Regions from separate parts of the Homo sapiens genome. Here region 1 is linked to region 2. Evidence: fine-mapped QTL for protein levels in blood plasma. A gene starts in region 2. The other region holds a variant in brackets. All regions are shown on one strand. Distances are between the middles of the regions. Region 1 overlaps C1S (complement C1s). Region 2 holds the start of C1R (complement C1r).

The links. A credible set is the group of variants that fine-mapping cannot tell apart. PIP is the posterior inclusion probability: the model's chance that the variant is causal. The UK Biobank Pharma Proteomics Project read protein levels with antibody pairs (Olink). The fine-mapping took linkage between variants from a reference panel, not from the people measured, so its PIPs are less certain.
Region 1: its variant is the best candidate, but not a certain one, in a credible set for the plasma level of the C1R protein (UK Biobank, PIP 0.64).

The regions. Positions count from the first base shown.
Region 1 is chr12:7,065,445-7,074,323 of GRCh38, forward strand. C1S (complement C1s) reads left to right here. Exons shown (of 12, transcript NM_001734.5): 7 at 373-526; 8 at 1,074-1,189; 9 at 1,595-1,673; 10 at 2,199-2,327; 11 at 3,012-3,086; 12 at 4,411-5,588. The coding sequence ends at 5,207. Among named protein-coding and RNA genes, the nearest start is that of C1S, 9.2 kb to the left of the region's middle. The variant G/A (reference allele first, on the strand shown) is at 3,456.
Region 2 is chr12:7,088,829-7,096,828 of GRCh38, forward strand. It overlaps C1R (complement C1r), which reads right to left and starts at 3,617. Exons shown (of 11, transcript NM_001733.7): 1 at 3,559-3,617; 2 at 2,624-2,852; 3 at 1,228-1,420; 4 at 759-905; 5 at 465-661; 6 at 11-158. The coding sequence starts at 3,560. It overlaps C1RL (complement C1r subcomponent like), which reads right to left. Exons shown (of 6, transcript NM_016546.4): 6 at 5,726-8,000. The coding sequence ends at 7,563. RefSeq lists an enhancer at 3,665-3,959.

The DNA.
Region 1 (8,879 bases), 23 kb before region 2:
TCTTGGGCTCAAGCAAGCGTCCCACCTCAGCCTCCTGAGTAGCTGGGCCCACAGACGTGTGTCATCAAACCCAGCTAATATTTTTATTGTTATTCTTTTTTTTTTTACAGAGATGGGGTTTTGCTATGTTGCTCAGGATAGCCTGAAACTCCTAGCCTCAAGCAATGCTCCCACCTCGGCCTCCCAAAGTGCTGGGATTATAGGTGTGAGCCACTGCACTCAGCCTGAAGATAAAATTATCTTTTCTCCTGACCCTTATTTTCTTCTTATTTTATGTGACATTTAATGCCTCTTTTATTTGTATCTCCCACTTCCCAATTTTACCTCTTCCCTTTAGTTCTTTCCCTCTTCTGATTTCATCATTTTGTTCAGTTTGTTGCAGGAGATCGGCAATTTGGTCCTTACTGTGGTCATGGATTCCCTGGGCCTCTAAATATTGAAACCAAGAGTAATGCTCTTGATATCATCTTCCAAACTGATCTAACAGGGCAAAAAAAGGGCTGGAAACTTCGCTATCATGGAGATCGTGAGTAACTTAGAAGTGCCTCTTTGGTTGGTGATACCAAAGTCCCCAAACAATGTGGGATCAAAGCAGGTAGATGATCCAGGCACACTGGAAGCACCTGTGATCTCAGCTACCGAGGGAGGCTGAGGCAGGAGGATCCCTTGAGCCCAGGAAGTAGGAGTTTGAGTCCACTCTGGGCAACAGAGCAAAACCTTGTCTCTAAAACAAAACAAAAACAAAGCAACAATAATTTAAAAAACAGATAGATTGTTGTTCTGATAGAATCCTGAGATACTTCACTTCTTCAGGAAAATCTAAACCAGTCAACGGTTGCTAGAAATGCCTCAACCTCTAGTAATCCTTTAACTAGACCTGAGACTGCAGACAGCTTGCGGGTGGTTAGTTGGTAATGCCATATGATTTTAGACATCTGCTGTATTGGAATGTTAAGCATCAGGATTGAGGACAACTGGACGATTTTAGAAAGTGTGAGAATGATGTAAATAGAATGAGAGTCTTCAACTATTTAGTAATTTTTTCCTCCTGTCCCAACTTCTGTTCTTTCAAGCAATGCCCTGCCCTAAGGAAGACACTCCCAATTCTGTTTGGGAGCCTGCGAAGGCAAAATATGTCTTTAGAGATGTGGTGCAGATAACCTGTCTGGATGGGTTTGAAGTTGTGGAGGTAAAGTACCACCTTGGCTTCTCCCCAGTCCCTGGCCCCAGATCAGGATGAGCGGACTGAAATTGTCCAGTTGTTTACCCAATGTATGTGTGTGATCAAGGTATAACACCTTTCCCATAAACACAACAGCTTAAGATCTGTAGTTCTCCCTTGTGAGTCATGGAGCTGCCTGGCCAGCTTGGCATTCTCTCTGCCTTCAGTCTTCTTGAGGAAGGGGAGTTGACACGTTGGGGCAAAGCTTTCTGTCAGCCTCATCTCCTGGGTGCTTTAGGTCTGCTAAGATGTTCCCAAGCTTCTTGTGGTGAGGACTCCTCATTGATCCAAGGCCAGAGATCAATTCCAGTTTTGATTTTGGTTTCCCATATCTCTCTTCAGAAATAAGTGGTGATGTTTATTATTCTCCAGGGACGTGTTGGTGCAACATCTTTCTATTCGACTTGTCAAAGCAATGGAAAGTGGAGTAATTCCAAACTGAAATGTCAACGTATGTGTCTCTTCAAAGTGGAAGTCTTTCTTTTTCTCTCAGAGAGAATGGAAAGATCAGCACATCAAAATTCAAATGCATGGTTTCCTCTTAGGCATGTGAGGGAGTGGGTTGGGTTTTTGAAGGGAAGCCAGTCATGGAAGCTTTTCTAGTCCCAGCCCCGCATCTGGTCCCAGGCCAACTAGATCGGCATGTTTCTTTCCAAGAAAGGGGCTATGGGATAGGTCGAGTTAGTAGCCCCACGTGGGTGCATTTGTGGCTTCCACTGGGCCTTCACCAACCACTGAGAACCAGGCTCTTCACTACGGCTTTCATGGGGCCATCTGAATTGGCATCTCAGCGGGTGAGAGAGCTGAGAGATGCCAGTTGGGGAGGATGGCCACAGAGAGGCTGGTGTGGGGAGGTTCATCCCAGGTGTGCCTGTGGATATGGGGTGGGGAAGCAGTGAGGATGAACCTGGCCCCATGACTCTTCCTTGGAGGAAGTGGCTGTCCTGACCATCGCTCTCCTTCCTTCGTCTGGTAGCTGTGGACTGTGGCATTCCTGAATCCATTGAGAATGGTAAAGTTGAAGACCCAGAGAGCACTTTGTTTGGTTCTGTCATCCGCTACACTTGTGAGGAGCCATATTACTACATGGAAAATGGAGGAGGTGGTAGGTTTCTTCTACTGGAGAAGAGAGAGAGAGAGTGAGAAGGTGTTGGAGGGTGGATAGCATAATCTGTGCCAGAGACAGAGTTTGGAGACAAATGAAGGCGATAGGACAGACATTGTTCATCCCCTTGGCTTCGTCCAAAGATACAGTTTTCATCTGGAGCAGGGCAAGTTCAGGGGAGCATCAGCCTCAGGGAATCATAGAGGTCACCAACTGAGTTCACAGCTGCAGCAGGAATTCCCCTACAACATCCATTTCATGGGATTACCCACCTTTTGACCAGTTATTTCATGTAAAACCCACAGGAGCAATGCCTTCAGCTTTAAGCCACCAAACTACACTGACTGGCTTTCTTGATGTAGAGGCTTTGGTCATGCTAGGTGCAGGGCTGAATGAGACCCTAATACGTTCTCTGCATTGCTCTGTATTTATTTCGCCACTTTCCCGATGCCTTCTTTCCTTCTGCTTTGGAGATGTTCCCTTTGTCTCCCTGGCAGGCTAGAGGCCTGAGGGATTGTTTGGAGGAAGATATTTTTTTTCTGGCTGATTTAATCTGATTTACTACTTGAATCCTAGACGAGCTGAGGTTCTGAAGGAACGGGGCAGGGTGTTGGGGTCGGAGGGGGGAATGGAAGAAGGAAGATGTGGTGGTGAGTGTGGCCTGTGTTCTCTGTGCTATTCCAGGGGAGTATCACTGTGCTGGTAACGGGAGCTGGGTGAATGAGGTGCTGGGCCCGGAGCTGCCGAAATGTGTTCCAGGTAAGGAGGGCTGAGGCTTGGGGAGAGATGATAGCCATGGGTGACTGGGAGTCACCTTCTGAAAGCAACTGTAATCCTCTTGGGAAAGGACTGAACAGTGACCTGCCAGAGTCCAGCTCAGTGAGGTGGCAGTATCACTGTGCCGTGGGCTGCCAGGGCCGTGGGGAACCTCCTCAGCCGCACTGAAGCCAGGCCAACTGGAAGGAAATAGAAACGTCAGCCAGCGACAGTTGGTGTCTGGTAATGTAGCTGCAGTGAGAAGATACAGAACTGCTAAAAACAGGGCCTGAAAGCTGAGAGTGTGTGAGTAATCAACACTCAGAAACAAGTCTAGCTAAATAGCCTAGTTATTATATTAAAAGTTTATAG[G/A]GCAGCAAGATATAGAGGAATTCAAAGAATGAGGAAGATAAGAGTTGGGTAGCAGAAGGCTGAGGCAAATCCAATAGGATAATAACCATCCTGGGTGGTACTGAAAGCTGAAGACTGAGCTGATTTGTTGCATTTATTATCTCATTCGTGTCCGTATAACAGCCCTGTGAGCTAGGTGTCATTGGTCTTATCTGACCAATGTCAAATGTGAATGGGTGGGGTGCAAGTTCACAGAGTTAGCAAGTGGCAAAGGCAGGCTTTGAGCCCAGGTCTGTCTAAGTTCACAGCCCATTGTGCTCAACTTGGAGTCCCTCCAGGCTGTCTAGTAAGGGATTTAAGTAAGCAGCTTCACTTGAATTCAGTTATTAGTATAACTGAATGGTAATGGCACCAGTCACTGGGAGTGAGAGGTCAGGGCCAAAGAAGGGACCCCTCTCTACTTCCTAGGCTGACCTGTGGTTTACTAGGAGGGACTCAGGTGCAACTAGGACTCCAGTAAAGAAGGTGATTAAAGTTTGATCTGGGCATCTGAAGAAGGCAGAAATCTTTCCTCCTCCACCATCTGTGTGAGAAAAGGGTTTCCAGCACTGGCTCTTGATTGGGCACCGGCCTCATGTGCCGAGTTGGGAGGTGCAAAGGGGACCCCTGCCTCCAGGGGGGCTGTGGGTCGCACTGTGGATAGTGTGAGGCATTAGTGCATCTGGACTCAGTGATTCACACACTGCCTCCGTTTAACTGAGCTCTCCCATGAGCCAGCTTATGACATCGGCAAAGCGGGATGTTTAGGTAAGGCCAGAGTGGGTCAGGTATTGAGATTGTTGACCAAATAGGGTTGACTATTTTGTACTAGAGAATCCTGCAACCTAGCAGGTAACATTATGTGAGTGGTTGGAGGATTTGCAGGAAGCCAGCATCATTTCTTCCTCCTTCCCTGTGTTGTTTTATTCCTTCCTAGTCTGTGGAGTCCCCAGAGAACCCTTTGAAGAAAAACAGAGGATAATTGGAGGATCCGATGCAGATATTAAAAACTTCCCCTGGCAAGTCTTCTTTGACAACCCATGGGCTGGTGGAGCGCTCATTAATGAGTACTGGGTGCTGACGGCTGCTCATGTTGTGGAGGGAAACAGGGAGCCAACAATGTATGTTGGGTCCACCTCAGTGCAGACCTCACGGCTGGCAAAATCCAAGATGCTCACTCCTGAGCATGTGTTTATTCATCCGGGATGGAAGCTGCTGGAAGTCCCAGAAGGACGAACCAATTTTGATAATGACATTGCACTGGTGCGGCTGAAAGACCCAGTGAAAATGGGACCCACCGTCTCTCCCATCTGCCTACCAGGCACCTCTTCCGACTACAACCTCATGGATGGGGACCTGGGACTGATCTCAGGCTGGGGCCGAACAGAGAAGAGAGATCGTGCTGTTCGCCTCAAGGCGGCAAGGTTACCTGTAGCTCCTTTAAGAAAATGCAAAGAAGTGAAAGTGGAGAAACCCACAGCAGATGCAGAGGCCTATGTTTTCACTCCTAACATGATCTGTGCTGGAGGAGAGAAGGGCATGGATAGCTGTAAAGGGGACAGTGGTGGGGCCTTTGCTGTACAGGATCCCAATGACAAGACCAAATTCTACGCAGCTGGCCTGGTGTCCTGGGGGCCCCAGTGTGGGACCTATGGGCTCTACACACGGGTAAAGAACTATGTTGACTGGATAATGAAGACTATGCAGGAAAATAGCACCCCCCGTGAGGACTAATCCAGATACATCCCACCAGCCTCTCCAAGGGTGGTGACCAATGCATTACCTTCTGTTCCTTATGATATTCTCATTATTTCATCATGACTGAAAGAAGACACGAGCGAATGATTTAAATAGAACTTGATTGTTGAGACGCCTTGCTAGAGGTAGAGTTTGATCATAGAATTGTGCTGGTCATACATTTGTGGTCTGACTCCTTGGGGTCCTTTCCCCGGAGTACCTATTGTAGATAACACTATGGGTGGGGCACTCCTTTCTTGCACTATTCCACAGGGATACCTTAATTCTTTGTTTCCTCTTTACCTGTTCAAAATTCCATTTACTTGATCATTCTCAGTATCCACTGTCTATGTACAATAAAGGATGTTTATAAGCAAATTTTGTGTGACTTACCTCATTCCACACCAAACCCTCAGAATTATAGAAGGGGAATGGGATGAGAAGGCTGTTATGTCACTGAAATTGGGCATCCAGCAACTAATATTTAATTTAATTGTCACGAAAACAGGGAATTCAGCTTTTCTTCTCTCTTCCAAATGAGATTTACTGAATATTGTGGGTTAGTATGAAGATCGCCAGTGTAAGGCATCACATTCTGCTTTTGAAACTCATTAATATTTACCTGGCCAAAAAAAAAAAAAAAAAAAAAAGAAGAAAAGAAAAATAAGAAAAAAAAGAAGCTCATTAAATGTCATGTGGTGCGTGGCTCACACCTGTGATCCCAACACTTTGGGAGGCAGGGGTGGGAGGATTGCTTGAGCCCAGGGATTCAAGACCAGTGTGAGCAACATAGGGAGACCCTGTCTCTACAAAAATAAAAAATAAAAATTAGCTAGGCATGATGGTGCGTGCCTTAGTCCCAGCTACTCAGGAGGCTGAGTTGGGAGGATCGCTTGAGCCCAGGAGGTCAAGGTTGCAGTGATCATGCCACTGTACTCCAGCCTGGGCAACCAGAGTGAGACATTATCTGGAACAAAGCAAAATAAAAAAACCCCACCTCATTCAGAAATCCATGTACAATAGTTTGAGTTGGCTGTTTAAGATCTTCTTTAAGTAGAAATTGTTTCAATATGTGAACGGAAAGTTAATTTTCCTCTAATACTCATTGTATCATGCAATATTATGACAACAAAAAAGAAAAACTAAAGAAATTGAGCATGCTCTTGTCTGCTTTCCTGGTGGTTTTAATCAATTTGTGACAATGTTTTCATTAGACTGAACTCTGTACCAAGATGACATAGCAGAAAATCTCGGTAAGGATGGACCCCAAAACTCTCCCTTCTATTTTCTAGGGGAAGGAAAAGAAAAGATTCCTCTTCCAAAAGAATGATTAGTGATGAGAAATGACTACAGAATAGAGACTTAGCATTTTAAAAACTGAGGACAGGACAACTATCTTAGGACAGCGGTTGCCCTAACAGGGCGTCTTAGGAAAGCGGAGGTCTGAGAGGAAGAGCTGAGGGGGAATCTGACCTATTTGATGTGACACGTGGCTTTCAGGAGGGCAGTTTTTACTAGAAGCCAAAAAAGGTTGGTTTGGGCCCATCAAGAATGGACTTTGATATTCCATAGACCAAGAGGGCTAAATTCAACAGTTGACCTTAGACCGCAGGGTAAACGTGATGAGGTAACCAGAGGAACTCTAATTGAAGGGCCTGAAGAATTGAAGGGAATTACAACAGGGAGTCCCTGGGAGGATTATATGGTCAACCAAGCAGCATAAAGTCACTGTGTCACTCCTGAACTGTATGCCTCATAGCCACCTCCTCACCCTTCCTGTCATTGCAGGAGCAATGGAGTTGACAGTGTGCCCTGGGTGAGAGTGTTTCCGTGAGAGGAGGATTCTTCTAGAGATAAAAAGGCATTGGAGGAATATTAAGATTTAGAAACATGGTCTGTGAAAGGGATATTGTTCTTCTTTTTTTATACTTGGGGCAATAGCAAAAAATTAACCTGGAATCTGACAAGTAACAGAAAAAGGAAGTTCATCCCTCTCGGAGAATCACCAGTCTATTTGGGTTCTGCCCTTGCTGATGGGCTGAGGTATTGGTGAAGAATTTCCCTCTTTGCTGCCACCTTGTACGGCATGACGGGAATGGGCTTTGCATCGTTGACTGTGCTGCAAGGTCATTTCTCTGGGTGAATGGCAGGGAGAAGACCTAAATGAATCATGATCAGAGACTTCAGAGCTGGGAAGAGCTTGTCATCAGGTCCTAGAGGGGCTAGAAAGTCATTCATTGTGTTTAAAGGGTATCCATCGTAGTACCTTGCAAGTTACTTGGGAACATATGTCCGCTTCATCTGAAACTCAGGAAAAGAGTTAGCTTTTTGAAGAAGGTGAATTGTCACTTTTCTTTGGTCAGAAGAAAATGGACTGGTGGGTCAGCAACTCATGCCAGGGAGGAAAGACAATGTCCGGTGGTCAAGAGGGCTTGAACCTACTTGAAACTGGACCAGCCCAGAAGGGGCTAGAAGGGATCCTGGGACTCTAAAGTTTCCTTTACAGTGACTGCTAGAATCAGAAACATATTCAGTGGAAATGTGACTTTTTTCCTGCATATTGGTTATTATTTTAAAAATTGAAAATATGATGTGAGGCGTGGTGACTCACACCTGTAATCCCAGCACTTTGGGAGGCCAGGGAGGATGGATCACATGAGGTCAGGAGTTTGAGAGCAGCCTGACCAACACAGTGAAACCTTGTCTCTACTAAAAATACAAAAATTAGCCAGGTGTGGTGGCAGGTGCTTGTAATCCCAGCTACTCGGGAGGCTGAGGCAGGAGAATCGCTTGAACCTGGTATTGCAGTGAGCCGAGATGGCACCACTGCATTCCAGCCTGGGCAGCAGAGTGAGATTCCGTCTCACACACACACACACACACACACACACACACACACACACACACACGGACACAACACAGCTTTATTTAATCTTGATCAGATCCACAAACTCTGCCATGGTTTTTAAAATAATGATTTAACAAAACCCTTTTTCTTTTGACATATTCACAAGAAGTTGCAAAGTTAGTACAGAGAGGCGCTATTTCCCCTAATGGCTACATCTTAGGTAACTACAGTACAATATCTAAACCAGGAAACTCATGTTGGTACAATGTGCAAGGGCAGTTTTGTGTTATTTTACTACATTGGAGACTCATGTGAGCACCTCTGCAGTCAAGATACGAAACAATTCCATCACTACCAAGATTTCCCTCTTGCTACGTTTTGTACTCACATCCTTTTTTATTTTCTCTTACAATCATAAAAAGACACATTGGAAAGATCCAGCTTCTCTCATTTGTCCTAAGAGGAAATTGATTTTGGGTATGTCCACCCTTGAACCAGAGAAAAGCAGAGACTGGACATATTGAGGGAGATGAAGTTGTGGTAACAGGAACCACAACGGGGGAACCCCCCCCCCCCAGAGCAAAACCTACAGGGAAAGTCTCTGATGGACCTAGTTTCCTGAATGGAAGCATCTGTTTTAAAAAAAATCTCTCTTCCTCTATAAGGGACTACAAAGAACACAGAAGACCTGCAGCTGCCAGGAAGGAGCTCATTCTGATTGTAACCATTGTGTTCTGCCTCATCTCCAAATGGGCTGTTTGCATTGTGTATCTATCTCCCTTTAGGTTTAATGTGGAAACAAATCATTTCTTTTGTCTTCA
Region 2 (8,000 bases):
GGAGCCTTACTCTCGGTGGTGTAGCGCAGCTTCCAGCCCCGGCTGTCCCCCGACTCATCTGTGAAGAACAGCAGATCCACAGCATTGCTGCTGGTGTCGAGGTCGGGGGGCCTTTGCTTCCCACAGAACTCGCCAATGTTCTTCCCGTTGGCATAGATCTAGTAGGGGAGGAGGGTTTTTTTTTTTCAGCTTGGACGTTTTTACACAGGGCCAACTGGGTAGTAGCCTGGTGGCCAGGGTGGTGGTGGTGGTGATGAAATCCTGCCTTATGTGTGTTTTCAGGGGAAGGTGAAAAGGGATCCCCATGACCCAATTCTAGTTGTGTGGGAACTTACCCAGCCCATGGGTGATGTTGGCCGTTCCTGCCCCAGCTGGCCAGGGGATCCAGGAGGAAGTTGGGACAAGAGGAGCCAAGTGCAGACAGAAGGGGAGGAAGGGGTCTTTCAGGGGTAGGACGGCTGTACCTGTAGCTGGTCATAGGGGCAGTGTACTTGCTGGTGGTCATCAATATCAAAAGGCTCCAGGAACTTGAGGTGCAGGGTGAGGCCCCGCTCCACCCGGATGCTGTAGTTGCAGCGCAGGTCAGGGGGGTAGGACCGAGGGTACTCCAGGCTGGAGATGTAGCCTGATGCCTCCGTGTACAGCTCGCTGCTGCACTCAGCTGTGAGAGCAGAGCCACAGGGCATTACGGGGGACTCCAGCTGGCCCAGCAAGCCCTGGCTCAACCCCTTCCCCTCTGCTACACCACTCTGGCTCACCCTGGCAGGAATGCCTGTCTTCCTGAAGCTCATAGCCTGGACGGCAGGAACAGAAGTAGCCTCCAACGTAGTTGTGACACAGGTGCTGGCACTGGGGCTGGGGATCCTCCTCCCCTGATTTGCTCCGGGAAGCACATTCATCAAGGTCTGGAAGGCATTCAGGAAGGAGGGTTAAGCTTCTGCTGGGAGACCTGAGTAGTGGCTCTGATCTTAGGGAGGTCACTCACCAGAGACCTAAAGACAAAGGCATCTTTAGGCCACCTGGACCTCCAGGCCTCTCCAATGCTCTCTGGGGACTGCTCCATGGGGACAGAGCCCAGGTTGACAGGCCTCGTTAGGAAAAGCTCTCTCGAGGGGAGGAACAAGGAAAGCCAGGCTTTCGGCTTCTTTGCATTCAAGATTCCCTTTCTTGGCCCCCCATTCAATATGGCTGAGGTCAGAGAAAAGGGATCCCTGGGGGGCTACTCACCCACAGCTTGGTAGTAGGCCAGGAAGCCCTTGTAGAACATGATGGTCCCATTCTCCTCGTTGGAGAAGTCTGTGTGGAAGGTCAGCAGCATCTTGTTCCCTTGGGACATAAATTCCTTCTTTCCCGGGGGGTTGCCCAGTGGAGAACCCAGTTGCCCACAGAACCTCCCCAGGCTTTTCTTATCAGCAGAGATCTGGTGGAAGAAGGACAGGGGGTAGGAAGAAGATCTGTTGCGGAGTGGCGCACGTGGTGGCTCAGTGATGGTCCTCCTTGTCTCGCCCAGAGTGCATCATGCACCACAATGGCTCTGGCTGGTCACTACCTGCTGGGCTCAGCTGCTGCAAACTTCCCCATGTGACTTTCAGCTGTTCCCTGAGTCTCCCACTGACTCACTCTTTGCGTGTTGTCCTGGACTGGGTACCTCACCCTTTCCCTGTTTTCTGCTCCTCTGGCAGGTTTCAGGTCCTTCTCCATCCCCACCACCTCCTATGGCCTGTTCCCCTGGGGTCCTGGTTGTCTGTACCCAGCCTTTACCTGCCCCTCATTCCCAGAGCTCAGACAGCTCCGCTTTATTTTCTGTCTTCAGATTCCACCTCAGCCTAATCAAACCATTCACACCTCGAGTGCCTCCTGATGCCCTCGGCGGAACATGAGCCCTGAAGCCCACCCATCTCAGTGTCAGCAGGCACTGCCTCGTCCCTCTTCCTTCCTCCTCACAGCCTCCTCAACCTCTCCTTGACTCTGCCAGCAAACGCCCTCCCCCAACACTGCACACTCGCCAAGTCTTCTGAGCCGGTAAGACGTGCCATTGTCATGTAATTCACGCATAATCTCCAGGGGTCTCCTGGGAATGGTAGTTGTTGGACCTTCGCAGGCTCTGCTTGAGCCCTGAATCTCATTTTTACTGGATAGAGAAAGACAGGCCTGGGAAGGTACCCTTGGTTGCCACAGAGGTGAGGGTTCTGAGCACACTGTCCTTGCTGAAGGCTATTCCTGTGCTGCCAGAGCCCACATTTCTCCTCCTCATGTCCCTGTGTTCCTGTTGAAGCAGGCAGCCATGTCAATCATTTCCTTGGAGACAGGGAAGCTGAGGCACAGTGGTTTCCCAAAGACTCTCAGCTAGACAGCAGATGGGGAAGGTTTTCCTGACTCAGTGGATGTTGAATTTCCTGAGTGGGTCCTGTCCCCTTCCTTCTCTGTGCTTCTCCCCTCAGTGCTCACCGAGGGCCTCTACACCAGTGAGCGCCCATCCAGGGCATCCCCGGGCTCTCAGAGAGGCCGTTGGCCATCAGCTCTTGTGGGGCTGGGCTGTGTCTGGGGGTGTGCATGCCATACAGATCCCAGATCCCAGAGGGCCCAGTTTTGTCTCCCCTCTGCCCGCCCATCCTGCCCCTACCTTGACATAATCATAGAAGCAGCCTTCAGAAGGCTCCAGGTCAAACTGCTGGAAGACGAGCTTCACCCTGTATCCCGTGGGGACTGTGATCACAGTGGTTGTTTCAAAGTTGTTGGGGTAAGGCTTGGGGAACAGAGGGGAAGTCACCTCCCCAAATAACTTCTGAGGGATGGGAATGGAGCCTCCTGCCCTGCAGAACAGGGCCGGCACCAGGAGGTACAAGAGCCACCTGCCAAAACAAAAGAGAGTATCTGGAGCTGGAGGGGTTCAGCACTCTTGCCATGTGGGCAGTGGCTGTGGCAGGGGATGAGACGGCCATACCACTGGGCATTCTCCTCTCTGCCCACCCTGAACCTCACAGACATGTTCTCAGCAGGGGTGCGTGGGTGGGGAGGATGGCCTGTGCAGCTGCTGCATCGGGTCACTCTCCAGGGCAGTGTCCAGTCCAGAGGCCACCACACTCCCCTCACACTCCCTTTCCAGCCTCCTCCCCTGCCCGGACGCGTCCCTCCCCTCCCCTTCCAGGAATAGGACTGGCTTGGGACCAGTTAATGGAGGGTGAGGGTTTCCACCCGTGGGTCTCTGAAAGGGCTCCCACAGGTTCAGCAAGAGCGTCTGGGAGAAACCATCTGTGGAGTGGGGGACACAGGCACAGAGTGTCCCGTCCTGGGCAAGGGGTCCCCTCCTCTCGCTGCTCCCTGCCAAGAGCCCAGAGGGAAGAAAGGACCATGGCATGAGCATCTATGTATGAAGTCTCCTCTGATCCCTAGGAGGAGGGATGGGGCGTGTGTTGTGTGTGTCCACGCGTGTGCACAGTGGAACTGATGAGGTGTGTGAAGAGAGAAGGGTGTTCCTGTCTCCCTGAATTGCCTCCCATGCCCTGGCTTCTCCCCTGGCTTCTCCCTCCCACCTGGTTGCCCATCACCCTTACTCACATTTCTCAAGGCCCGTGTTGAATCCTGGGCTCTCCCGACAGCGTCTTCGTGCACTGTGTGCAGAGGGAGCCCGCGTCATGCACAGCAGGGAGGGGAGGGTTTTCTGTGGAGTGGAGGGGGGACCATTCCCGGAGGAATGTTGGAGGGAATGAACTATTTGCATAAACAAAAGATCTGAGTTTCCACTTTAATTTAGTTTTGGTTTTGAAATCCCTGTTTGTGGTGCCACCTGCTGGTCGGTGAGGGAAAGGGCTAAGGAGACGGGAGTCTGGCTTTTTAGGGCCCGGGGAGCCTTGGGTTGGAGGCCCAGATGTCTCAGTCTCTAAATCTGATCAGCTTCTCCCTTCTTCCAAGACTTTCCTGGGGGCTGCTGCTGTGTTTACAAGGTTCCTACCAAAGCAGTGGGAGACCACAGGTGGTGGTGAATTCTCTTTTCTGGGCTGTCCTTTCCCATTGACCCTGTTCTTCCTGCCCTCATTCAGCCCACAGCCCTGGTCCAAGAATGGCCCGGGTTTCAATGCCCAGGACGTAATGATAGGAACACTGGGGCAGAGGAGGGTGTGTGGGAGCGGGCAGAGGAGAGAGGAGCTTGGTTGCCTTGGGGCCCTGGCCTGCTTTAGCCATGAATGACACTTGGACATAGAATAGGGTTGGCCATGTCAGGGCAACCCTAAATCAGCCCTGGGTTTGAGACCCTCTGGGGCGGCTGCGGAGGGGGTAAAATGTCCCCATCTCCTTAGCATCTGCTCAACACAACTGCCAGGGCTGAAGCTAAGGATGCGGGTGTGGAGCAAGAGGGACTCGGTTTTTCTGAGATGAAGCCAGGCCCCTGGGAGGGAGGAGGGACCCTAGTCTCTCCTGTCCATCAGGCCATAGTGTCCTGCTTTAAAACTTTTGCTCTTGGCCACGTGTGGTGGCTCATGCCTGTGATGCCAGCACTTTTCGAGGCCAGGGTGGGAAGATCTCTTGAGCCCAGGAGTTCGAAACCAGCCTGGGCAACATAGTGAGATCTCGTCTCTAAAAGTTAAAATAAATTAAAAAACAATTTCATTGTTTTTGGAAGGCTTTCTTCATCAACTCTCCATGGCACCAAATATCTGATGGCACTTCATCCCACGGAGGGGCTTGGGCTGCAGAGCAGGACTCTGCGTTCTTAAGCCTTTGTAGGCTGTTCTGCTTGTTTCCCTTATTAGATGAATCCCTCCAACCTCCACCCTTCTGCCCCCACCCCCGTTCATCCATTTATGGGCTACCTGTTTAATGTGCAAGACACTTTCCCAGGCAATAGATTGCAAGAATTCACAGAGCTGATGCAGTTCCCCATCAGGCAGTGACCACATCATCAGTAGTTAGACAGCAGGCACACAGAAGGTGCAAGATCCACCAACGCTTGGAGGGTTTCTCCAGCAGGCCTGTGTGTCAGAGCTGAGGACTGAACCTAACGGAGGGCTGGTCTGTGATGGGATCAGCATATGATCCACAGCCTTGTTAGATCAGGAAAGACAAAAGATGGGGGAGAAGGAAAAGCACCAGATCAGAGGACGAGAAGGAAGGGGAATCTCGTCTAACAAACTGCACATTAATATCCTAGCAGCAGTTTGTGTGTGTGTGTGTGTGTGCACGCGCGCATGTGCCGTATGTTCATAATGGAGGCAGAGGGAACAGGTAAGGAGGTAAGTCTTAGCTGAAGCTCTTCCGTCCATCCTAGGGATTCTCAGTTCTGCGTTGGCATTGTGCAACACGCTTGGAGAGCGGCAAACCTGGATGTCATTAGCTCAGTCCCAGCCCTGTCTCCACTCTGCCCAACCATTCAAAATAACCTTTACTCACACATTTTTGTTATGTCCTTGACTTTGTTTTGTCCTTGACTCATACCAAGAAGGAAAAAAATGCCATATGAAATGCTGCTGCGTTTGTTTTAAAACAATTATTGAGGATATAGTCGGTTACAGTGTTTGTTCCTTTAAGGATTTGATTCTTGGGAAAAAGATTTCTCTCTTAAAGTAGTGGTAGGTTTTCCTCTGTGGATATGTCTCTATCGCTAGCTCATCTATCTCCATCATCTCTATCTCTTACCTCCCTCTCTCTCTCATTGTCGATATCTCTATCTCTAGACAGAGACAGCGATGGAGATGTAGAGATATAGATCTAGACATACACATATAAATATAGGTATATATATATTTTTTTGCCTTGGCAGGGAGAAACTCATATCATTTTTTGCAATCATAAAAATAAGCAAAATAAAATAAAAACATTTCATGCTCATTAAACAAATTTTAGCCAATAGAGAATAGTGGAAAACCAAACAGCCAAAATCTTATCAATAAAACCACCTCTGTTTAGTATTTTGAGAGAATTATTATTATATTTTTGGCGATGGGGTTTCACTATGTTGCTTAGGCTGGACTTCAACTCCTGGGCTCAAGCGATCCTCTTGCATCAGCCTCCTGAGTGGCTGGGGGTATAAGTGTGCATCATTGCACCTGCCTTTTGGGAATATTTTTAATAATCTTTTGTACTGTATGTGGGTGTAAAAAACAGAAGTAATCACATGTATGTACAACTTTGAATCCTGCCATTTTTTAGAGATAAATTTAACCTTTGACCATATAGCAACTTGACTCTTGATGCTAACAAATTACCTCTCTTCTCTCTTTTATGGTGTTTATTTTCTATTTCCATTGAACAGTTGTATTTTATTTGTGTCTTTCACTGTAAATCACCTCCAATCTTTTTTTTTTGGGGGGGATGAAGTCTTGGTCTGTCCGCAGGCTGGAGTGCAGTGGCGTGATCTTAGCTCACTGCAACCTCCGCCTCCCAGGTTCAAGTGATTCTCCTGCCTCAGCCTCCCGAGTAGCTGGGACTACAGGCACGTGTCACCACGCCCGGCTAATTTTTGTATTTTTAGTAGAGATGGGGTTTCACCATGTTGGCCAGGATGGGCTGGATCTCCTGACCTCGTGATCCACCCACCTCGGACTCCTAAGGTGTTGGGATTACAGGCGTGAGCCACTGCGCCCGGCCCATCACCTCCAGGTTTTACTAAAAATTAAAGAGTTGGTCCTCTCAGGTGGAGCAGTTCCCCTGATGATAGGGGCACAGGTGGGGTGTCTGCAAGAACTTCAGTCCAGTGCTGGGCTCACCTGGCTTCTGCAGGAGATGGGGCCATTAGGAAAGTGTGAGCTAGAGGATACCATTTTCGCAGAAGCAGGAATTCCCAGGGAGGGAAAATGGTAAGGATGTGGGGGCTGGGAGGGAAAGCGGGTGACACAGCAGGTTAGAGGAGGGTTGAGAAGTATTGCAGCACACTGGGAAGAGCACAGTCTCTGCAGTCACACACCAGCTGTGGGACTTGGGCAAGTCCCTTTATCCCCTGAGCCTCAGTTTCCTCATTTGTCACACATAGATAATAACACATCCTTTGCAAATATGGTATGAGGATTAAGTGAAATAACAGGTGAAGCACCTGGCATATAGAGGACATAAAATAAAAAAGGAGCTGTTTCTATAATTGCATCTTGGAGCTGCAGAATAGCTTGAATATTTGAAGGTCAACTAAAGGGTCTTAGGAATGTTTCAGAAATGCAATGCAATGAAAACCCCTTCCTCCATACTCTAATAGCGGGTGAGTAGCTGACTCTTCCACAGGTGAGTATAAAAGCTGTGTCAACAGATGAAGTAGGGGAAGGCGGTTCTAAGGACATTCAAGGCGAAAGTTGTTGAGATGTACAGGCTTCCCGGGGCCTAGTGCATGAGCACAGGGAGGTAGAGGGTGAGGAGGAGCGGTCTGTGGGACTCTGCTTCCTGTCTGGGATGGGGCGGGCTTGCCGGGTGGGGGTTTCTCTTGCAGTGGCTTGGTGCAACAGTGATGTGAATAGGATTTCCCTGCCTCCCCCAACCCCCCACCCCCAACCCCTACCCCAGTGTTCAGTCCTCACTCCAGGCCCTCTGTTGCCTGGGGCCTCCACTGTGCTGGTCAGTCCCTGTTCAAGCCCCCAGGGTCAATTCTTGCCATTCATCACTCCCTTGATCCAGTCCACATAGCTGAGCACCTTGGTGTAGAAGTCATACCCTTCGCCACACCCTATGCCCCAGGACACAATGCCCGTGGCCACCCAGTGATGGGCATGATTGTCCCATACCACATAGACGCTGCCACTGTCCCCCTGGCAGACACTGTGCCTTTGCGTCTCATCCCCAACACAGAACATATTGTCAGAAAACACCTCGGGTCTCTGTCTCTTTTGGAGCCAGGCGTTGCAGGCCTCCCTGGGAGCTACAGGCAGCCTCGAGTACTTCAGCTCAGTAGTTAGCCAGCCCATCTCCATGCCAAACCCACTGACGTAGCCCAACAAGCCGCTGCGGTAGAGGGTCTCATTATCGGGCAGACAGACCGGGAGGACGTTGGGGCCCAGGGGGATGCTGTGCTGCAGCTCCAG